Linked DNA regions of Homo sapiens: regions 1 and 2 are each reported to be linked to region 3. Evidence: microRNA targets listed by miRTarBase, many of them from high-throughput screens and not tested one by one. Region 3 holds a microRNA gene; each other region holds the end of a gene's coding sequence.

Region 1 (3,000 bases), not on the chromosome of region 3:
ACCTACTGTGCCTGGCCTTAAAGTACATTATATATTATATATACTTACATATATAAAGGTATATTTTATATATACTTACACGTACAGTGTGTACATCAGGAAGTATGTATAAAACATGCAAGTGATGCTTATGTGGAAGGTCACTGCTGGTGGCCACCAGGGACAGTCTGTAGCACAAACGTCCATGTGGACCCGTGTTCCCTGTCCACTGTGGATTGCTCAGAGCTGCCTGTTTTCTCTGCAGCTTCAGTACTCGGAGGAAGACTGTGCTTTCGAGGAGGAGATCCGCCCAGATGGCTACAATGTGTACCGATCCGAGAAGCACCGCCTCCCGGTCTCCCTGAGCAGTGCCAAACAGCGGCAGCTGTACAAGAACAGAGGCTTTCTTCCACTCTCTCATTTCCTGCCCATGCTGCCCATGGTCCCAGAGGAGCCTGAGGACCTCAGGGGCCACTTGGAATCTGACATGTTCTCTTCGCCCCTGGAGACCGACAGCATGGACCCATTTGGGCTTGTCACCGGACTGGAGGCCGTGAGGAGTCCCAGCTTTGAGAAGTAACTGAGACCATGCCCGGGCCTCTTCACTGCTGCCAGGGGCTGTGGTACCTGCAGCGTGGGGGACGTGCTTCTACAAGAACAGTCCTGAGTCCACGTTCTGTTTAGCTTTAGGAAGAAACATCTAGAAGTTGTACATATTCAGAGTTTTCCATTGGCAGTGCCAGTTTCTAGCCAATAGACTTGTCTGATCATAACATTGTAAGCCTGTAGCTTGCCCAGCTGCTGCCTGGGCCCCCATTCTGCTCCCTCGAGGTTGCTGGACAAGCTGCTGCACTGTCTCAGTTCTGCTTGAATACCTCCATCGATGGGGAACTCACTTCCTTTGGAAAAATTCTTATGTCAAGCTGAAATTCTCTAATTTTTTCTCATCACTTCCCCAGGAGCAGCCAGAAGACAGGCAGTAGTTTTAATTTCAGGAACAGGTGATCCACTCTGTAAAACAGCAGGTAAATTTCACTCAACCCCATGTGGGAATTGATCTATATCTCTACTTCCAGGGACCATTTGCCCTTCCCAAATCCCTCCAGGCCAGAACTGACTGGAGCAGGCATGGCCCACCAGGCTTCAGGAGTAGGGGAAGCCTGGAGCCCCACTCCAGCCCTGGGACAACTTGAGAATTCCCCCTGAGGCCAGTTCTGTCATGGATGCTGTCCTGAGAATAACTTGCTGTCCCGGTGTCACCTGCTTCCATCTCCCAGCCCACCAGCCCTCTGCCCACCTCACATGCCTCCCCATGGATTGGGGCCTCCCAGGCCCCCCACCTTATGTCAACCTGCACTTCTTGTTCAAAAATCAGGAAAAGAAAAGATTTGAAGACCCCAAGTCTTGTCAATAACTTGCTGTGTGGAAGCAGCGGGGGAAGACCTAGAACCCTTTCCCCAGCACTTGGTTTTCCAACATGATATTTATGAGTAATTTATTTTGATATGTACATCTCTTATTTTCTTACATTATTTATGCCCCCAAATTATATTTATGTATGTAAGTGAGGTTTGTTTTGTATATTAAAATGGAGTTTGTTTGTATCAAAAGGTGCATTCTATTATCCGCCTAGAATGTTAGGGAGGGTGGGGAAGGGGCTGGTGGGGGGCAGCACCGTCCACGGGAGGAAACCCTCGGTGTGTCTGCCCTGGACACCAAAAGCTCGGGTGGGAAGTTAGCGGGTTTGGGCCAGCCAGCTCTAGTGGTGGAGGCTGGTTTGGGCCCTGCTGTCCTGCCCTTTCCTCATGCCTAGGGGCTTGGCTTCCTCAGTCCACCTTCTCTCTAGCAGTCTCAGTGGTTAGGGCGGCCTCTCTGCCAGGAGTGTTTTTGGCTGCAGGAAACAAACACCAAGGAACAGCGGCCTAAGTGAGGGCCTCTCGCCCTCAGCACTCTTCCCTGGGGAAAGACGTTCCTGCATTTAACAGTGCCCCCCCCACCCCCCACCATTAGATGCCTGTAGAAACCCTCAAGTTGTGACAACCAAAATACCTCCAGAAGTTGTTGCATGTTCTTAGGAGGCAAGATCACCCTTAACGGAGGACCACTGACCGGAGCAAATAGGATTTCTTTTTGTCCAGCCACAAATCCAGAGGGACCCAGTGACCCAGCGATGCCTGGGCTGTGCCCTGTGTGATTCCCTTGGTGTCCCTGTCCTGCTGGGGCCTCGTCTCGCCAGGGCTGCTGTGGCTTCAGCTGAGCGCCCTGTACTCAGGGAGAGGGAATCATTTCGGGCTGGGCCTCTCTCATCAAGAAAGCCAAAACTTCCTTAGAACCTTTCAGCAAATTCCGGCTACATCCTAAGAACCAGGTTTGCGTCACAGGACCAGGCCAGCCCCAGCTGCACGGCAGGCTGGGAAGGCAAGAATTAGCGGTCAGGGTGACCAGATGTGGGCCACATCCTGAGTGCAAGGAGGAGCAGGTGCAACCGGACACCAACGTGTGCATGAAACATGATTCCAAATGAGCATTTGCCAGGGATTAGGGATGGTGGAGGGAGTCGGGGAGGAGGGTTGGGTCACTCAGGGCAGTAGTTCCCAGGTGCTTACGTTGGCAGCGAGGGGGGTAATGTCGTTGTTCAAGTCTACGAAGGCTATTTCAGGTGAAGCCTCCCTGCTCTCCAGTAAAAGGGACCTCCACTTGTCATTCTCACTGATGACATGCCCAGGACATCTAGAGTTAACCCTTGGGGCGTTCCCTGTCTCCATCTGCCAATCAAGATGCCCCTCTCACTCTTTGGTGTCCTTGTCATGTAACCATGCTGATTAGAGAGCTGACAGGCAGGGCTGGATGATGCTTGTGGACACAGCCTTCTCTACCCGTGGCAGGCGCCAGACAGGAAAGGCACTCTCCTGGAGCCACACAGCCTGGAGGCAGCTCAGGGGCTGTGGGCAGGGCCCTTTGATTGCTGTGTGACCTTGAGTAAGTCACATCACCCCTCTGAGCCTGCATCCTTCTGCGGAC
Region 2 (3,000 bases), not on the chromosome of region 3:
AGGTGCTTAGCTCTCAGTACTTAAATAAAACAGCAAAGAAGTTTGTACTTTGTTACAATTCAGAATGACCTTCCCCTCCAAATTCCTACTGAACTAGTCAAACCTCCAGTACTGTAAACTACTTACATTTCGAAAAGCTCTACTGAATGTTGAAATCCAAGTAGAAAAAGTTATAAAAAGTTACTCCCTGTTTTATTGCTGTTCACTGGATTTGGCTGACATTTGCTTTTTACTTTCATCAAATCTTACCGAATGATGAAGACACATCAAGTTACAAAGGTACCACTTTCTCTCTAATATCTTTTCTTTTTAAACAATTTGTGTCAATGTCAACAACATGATAAAGATGAAGGGTGTTCAACTGATTATTTGAACCCATAAAAACTCCACCAGGGAATCTTATTTTGTGGGCACAATGCACAGAGCCTGGAACATGGTGGGTGCTCAATGTTGGAGGAATCAAATTCCAACTTTAAAATGAGTACAAGGACCTACTTTAGATCAAATATTAAATCTGGCTAATAATTTCGGGCCACACTCCGCTTCTGTGTCTCAAAGCAGGTGGGGCAGAAAAAAGTAGCCGAGTCTCAAATTTGCTGCTATTCTCTTTATAAGCAGTTTACAACTACTTGGCATCTCTAGCTCAGAAGCACAAAATGTATATACAAAGAAATGATTAGAATTTATCTTAACTGAAAGCACTAGTTTAAACAGCCTAGAGTCTTGTAGAAATTGTTATTCCAAAACATGCAGAGGCAGCAAGAGTTGCCCAAAACCACATTTTATTCTATAACCTTTATATTGCTTTTCTGTTAAAGATTGAAGCAATGTGAAGTGGATGGAAATATTTTGTTAAAAGAACAAAATGAATTAATCACAGCATAGATGACTAATAAAAACCTTGGGTTTATGCCATACACTTCAAACACAAGGCAAAGTCCAGTAGTGGCTCATGTTCTGGGTTTTTAGAAAGCAAATGAAAATATTTGGAAAGATCAATATATTTCAACAGAAGAGCCATAAATGCCCTGAAAGCAGAAAGTTGACACAATTTTAAATAGAATTCATATATATATATTTTAAAATCAAACACAATTAAATATAATATGGTTTAAGTACATGAATACTTCAGCTTTAAAAGAATAACAGAGGTGGTACATAGTACCAAAAACTTACACAAAGCCTTTTTGCTTCTTCTGTCGATGAAACAGTGTGCCTCTATACAATCAAATATTGCAATGGAATAAATTCTCTGTTCATTCAAGACTTTCTCAAGGACAAAAGTGATTAATAATTATATATTTATACATATATATATATATTTTTTTTTTTGCAAAGTCTGAGCAAAAGCAGTAACATCTAAGAGAACTTTCTTTCCTCTCAATCATGTGCATTGAGGAAGCGCTGGCGCCACGTGGTCAATGGAGTGTGCTCACCAACTGGGCAGTCCTGCTGATGGCTGTGTGATCCCGATGCAGAAGCCAACTGAGCAGAAGTGCAGTGAGTGAGTCTCTTACTATCCTAAAGAAAGGAGAAGAAAGACGACCAACTGCACACTTTCCAGCTCACAGCAAAGAATGGGGGAGGCAGTCAAAGTCAAATGTTTCTCTCTCCCCAGTCATCCTGCTCACCTTATTTAAAAAAAAAAAAAGTATAATTTGGGAAGAACTGCTTTGTTCAAGGTGCCACAGGGGCAAAAGTGGAGTCATCGCTATTTCTTTCTTTCTTTCCACATGTATTCTGAAGGGAAAGTTAAGTAACTGGAGTGCAGAATTCCAAAGGGGCAAATCCTAATGCTCAAAGTAAACCAGATTCACACCCTTCTGTTAGCAGGGGAGAGAATGGTTTTAAGTATAGTGCATCTCAGGAGGAGGAATTAAAATGTGAAAACTATATACTGCCATCAGAGGAAGGAGGAAGTCACTGAAACTTGACCCATGACTTGTCAGTTTCCTTCCAAATTAATGCCGCTGTCAAGAAGACTGCATAATTAACTCTCACCCTGTTCCGCTGAAGCTGCTAGCACCACGCTGCCACTCAAAGCTGCCTGGCTCTCGGTGGGGCTGACTCACCTGCTTTGGAAGGACAAAGCAAACCACCTCTGGCACCTGCTTTACAATGCTGATTAGGGATGAGTTACCACTACGAGTGTGCATCAAGTATCAGTTCTATGCTTATCTGCTTCCCAGAGGATGTGGTCCCTGTCTATTCCAGTAGGCTAAAACACTCTCATAAATGGGTTATTGCCATTGGAAAACTAATAATTTTCTAGTAATGTAAACAATACCATTTTGTATCTTTAAGACTCTCACTGTGTGAACATCATGTGCATCAATTATGCCTACAGGTAACTGCATTATGGTGGAAGTCTAGGATTGTCTCCCATTCTCTCCTGGAAACAACAGTGACAGATCAGAAATATAGTGCTGTTTTCATTGGCTGTGTTGAAGAATCCAACCAAGGGAAAAAAGTTCTCTTATTTTTCACAAGCAGATTTCCTTTATCTCAAGTTTTGAGTCATAACTGAAAAAAGAAAAGAAAAGAAAATGGTAAGGTGCATTTCTCTAACAAGTGACCTATTATTACAAATTAAGGATGGACACCAACACTTAGTGTTTACTATATACCAGAGTTTAAGACAGCCAGAAGCTGACTACAATTTTGTGAGGTAAAATATTGTAATTTTCCTTGTTAAAATATGAGTGAACAGAAGCTTAAAGAGGTTACGTAACTTACCCAAGGGGCATATAACAAGGACTGGCATCCAGACTTGCTTTCCCATGTTGGCAATAGATATTAGAATGAAAAATATTGCCAATTTTCAATAGAGTAATTCTACTTCTAGGAATTAACCCTAGAGCATATTCAAGAGGGATGGTAAAGACACACATGCAGACATTCACTGACTCCCTCCTGTAGTCACAGCACTGCGGACAAATATCACGGAAGACAAGGTCCCCGGTATTGTGGCATGGGACATGTGCACATGAAGCAATTCAG
Region 3 (3,151 bases):
CGTCTCAAAGGTACAGATAATTTAAAAGCAAGTGATGTGTATATGTTATTATTACTTTTTAAAAAGGTATTCTGAAGGTTGTCAGTATCACCATAGGTATAGAATTGACATAAACTATAGTGAAAAATATCAATGTTACTAATTTGAGTACATTCTTAGCACTCAGAGCAAGAGGAATGAAAGTCATTTTTGCTAATGTGCATTTTTCTTCTTAATTATAAAGCCCCACTAGCTTCTGCTTCATGATCTCAGTTACTGAGAAAACTAAAACAAAAAGTAAATGTTTTTAGAAATCCTTTTGTTTGTGTAAACTGAATATCCAGTTGATGGAGTTGGACAGCTAGGGTAGGGTAGAGAAAACAAAGCACTGTGTTCACTCATTTGACATGGTTCTGGACATGGGTTCGCCATAACTTAGCAATATATGATCTCTGGCAAATCACCTAAGTTTTTTTTTTTTTTTTCTGCCTATAAAATGGGGTAATAATATCTAATCTATTTCCAGAATCCTTTTTTGATGAATTAATGAATAATTCATTGCCAGCCCCATAGCGTCTTGTGAAAACCAAATGAGAAAACATATAGAGCAGTTTTGAATGTTTGGCAGATATGAAGTATTATTGTCATGTTTGGTTATGAGCACTTTGAAGACAGGAATCATGTCTTAGTTATCTTTATTTCCTGAACATCTAGAAGAGGGCTTTAGAACGTAGTAGTTCCTCGGTATATATATGAAAAATCAATGATTGAGGTCAGGGAGGCACAGTCAGTGAATCCATGCATGGAAGAGATAAGCTGTGAAATATGCTGGAAGCTTACTGCATATTTGATGTATTAGAGTGAAAACCTAATCATGCAGTTGTTCATCCTCATTAATATGGATAAGTCATGTGTTCATCTTTCATTCTAATTTAATTCAACTGGGCCTTTTAATATTTCAGCCTCACCACTTGCTGGGCTCTGATCCTTCTTTTTCTTCTGCCTCCTCACGTCTCCAACCAGAAGGTGATCTTTTAGTCCTTCACTTCATGGGGAGCCTTCAGAGAGAGTAATGCAGCCACCAGAAAGGATGCCGTTGACCGACACAGTGACTGACAGGCTGCCCTGGCTCAGTTATCACAGTGCTGATGCTGTCTATTCTAAAGGTACAGTACTGTGATAACTGAAGGATGGCAGCCATCTTACCTTCCATCAGAGGAGCCTCACCGTACCCAGGAAGAAAGAAGGTGAAAGAGGAATGTGAAACAGGTGGCTGGGACCCAGAAACCCTCTTACCCTGCACCTCTGTCATACTTCTCCCGGGGCATAGGGAGAGTTATTCTGCTTCTCTTTGCCTTGTTTTGTAACATGGGGTAGTTGTTGGTGCAGCCATGTTGTGCTGAGTGAACATATATTAAGATCTTTGGAACCTTTAGGAGACTGAAAATAGGTAAGTATGAATTAGTATTTCTGGAATGGTATTCAGAGAACTTCGTACCATTTTTATAAATGTGAAAGGTAACCTAATTAGAACAGCTTGGCACTTGTCAGTACACTACTAGATTTCAAAATCAGATTCTACTTACAGGGAGAAAAAAAAAGCCCAATATGTTGAACAGTATTGAAATTGTTGCATAAATAAAAGTCCATCATTGTAGACCAGCTTACTGAAGTGAAGAAAGAAAAAAAGTATATCTTTGTCTTGAAGGAGTAGATAGTGACATGTCATGTTTCTTTCAGGATATTTAGGATCTGGCCTAATTCAAAAGAATATTTACTGAATGCCTATGTTATTGCTGCTGCTGTCACATTTACATGAAAATAAAATGTAAATTATTTTATTTCTATCAAATAAGGACTAGTCTGCAGTGATATCTGGCACATATCGATTTCAGGAATACGAAGCTGTAAACACCAAGCCAGCATCACGTGCATGAAAGACTAGGAAATTTTTTTTTTGTTGCCCACACGGGAGTGCAGTGGCATGATCATAGCTTACTTCAACCTTGATCTCCCAGGCTCAAGCAATCCTCCCACCTCAACCTCCCGAGTCTGAGACTACAGGCTCAGGCCACCCACCTGCAAATTTTTAGTAGAGACAGGAGTTCACTATGTTGCCAAGGCTGGTCTTGACCTCCTGAGCTTAATTGATTCTCCCACCTCAGCCTCCCAAAGTGCTGGGATTACAGGCATGAGCCACTATACCCAGCCAGGATTAGGAAATTTAACAGCACACATCTTCAACCTCCATCTTACTCTAGAGAGTACTGCTGGGGGTGAAAGGTGGTTATTGGAGAACCCAGGATTCTGCCAATGCCAATCTCTGCCAATTATCCCTCTTCCCTGTAGACTCCTAAGGACACTGTACACATGTAACAATAGCAAATAAGAAACAAAGTGCATGACTTGATTATGTGTTAGATCTTAGATCACAGTACTGTGCAAGGAAGGCTCAGGTAATTTCATGGAACGTGTTTTAGGCTCAGAGCCTAATCGGGTATATTACCTCATCCTAGGCTCATGTCTGTATCTGGGAGCCTGTGGATGTCTGACTGGTGTAGGAACCCAAAGCAGTGACCCATATGCTTGAGCAAAGAGAACAGAGATGGCTGAGGTTAGGCTGTAATTTGAACCTACCTACCACAGAGAGAAGAGGGGCCAGGGAGAGAAAAACCATTTGTGACTTTTTTTTTTTTTTTTTTTTTTAAAGAAAGAGTCTCAGTCTGCGGTCAGGCTGGAGTGCAGTAGCTCAGTCTTGGTTCACTGCAACCTCTGCCTCCCGGGGTCAAGTGATCCTTATGCCTCAGCCTGCCGAGTAGCTGGGATTACAGGTGTGCACCACCATGCCCATGTAATTTTGTATTTTTGGTAGAGATGGTGTTTCACCATGTTGCCCAAACTGGTTTCAAACTCCTGTCCTCAAGTGATTCTCCTACCCTCAGCCTCCCAAAGTGCTGAGATTACAGGCATTGAGCCACTGCACCCGGCCTCGTGTGACTTTTTAACATACTGTGAACCTTACCTACTATCAGCCCTGCCAACTGCATGTCTTAGATATGGGTCAGGTGTATTATCAGGTCCTCCACTGGGACACAATGGGGAAGAAAGGGAACTGAAAGGGAGTAGGCCTCGTACAGAGAGGTTCTTTCTTATCCTTCATTGTGCCAGTCCT

What was found. The annotated mature microRNA hsa-miR-3671 reads AUCAAAUAAGGACUAGUCUGCA and lies in region 3 at 1,826-1,847, shown strand. An mRNA with a match to its seed (bases 2 to 7 or 8) in the 3' UTR can be bound and repressed. Matches are read on the target gene's strand: a 7mer-m8 pairs with bases 2 to 8, a 7mer-A1 pairs with bases 2 to 7 and ends in A, and an 8mer does both.
Region 1: miRTarBase lists FGF19 as a target of hsa-miR-3671. Seed matches in the 3' UTR shown: 7mer-A1 at 1,366-1,372.
Region 2: the mRNA of AKAP10 is a reported target of hsa-miR-3671. Seed matches in the 3' UTR shown: 7mer-m8 at 1,227-1,233.

The regions. Positions count from the first base shown.
Region 1 is chr11:69,696,821-69,699,820 of GRCh38, reverse strand. FGF19 (fibroblast growth factor 19) reads left to right here. Exons shown (of 3, transcript NM_005117.3): 3 at 245-1,583. The coding sequence ends at 559. Among named protein-coding and RNA genes, the nearest start is that of FGF19, 5.7 kb to the left of the region's middle. RefSeq lists a silencer at 246-540.
Region 2 is chr17:19,903,710-19,906,709 of GRCh38, forward strand. It overlaps AKAP10 (A-kinase anchoring protein 10), which reads right to left. Exons shown (of 15, transcript NM_007202.4): 15 at 593-2,523. The coding sequence ends at 2,518. Among named protein-coding and RNA genes, the nearest start is that of ULK2, 37 kb to the left of the region's middle.
Region 3 is chr1:65,056,458-65,059,608 of GRCh38, reverse strand. MIR3671 (microRNA 3671) reads left to right here and starts at 1,767; the gene lies at 1,767-1,854. It overlaps MIR101-1 (microRNA 101-1), which reads left to right and starts at 1,101; the gene lies at 1,101-1,175. It also overlaps a transcript of JAK1 not described here.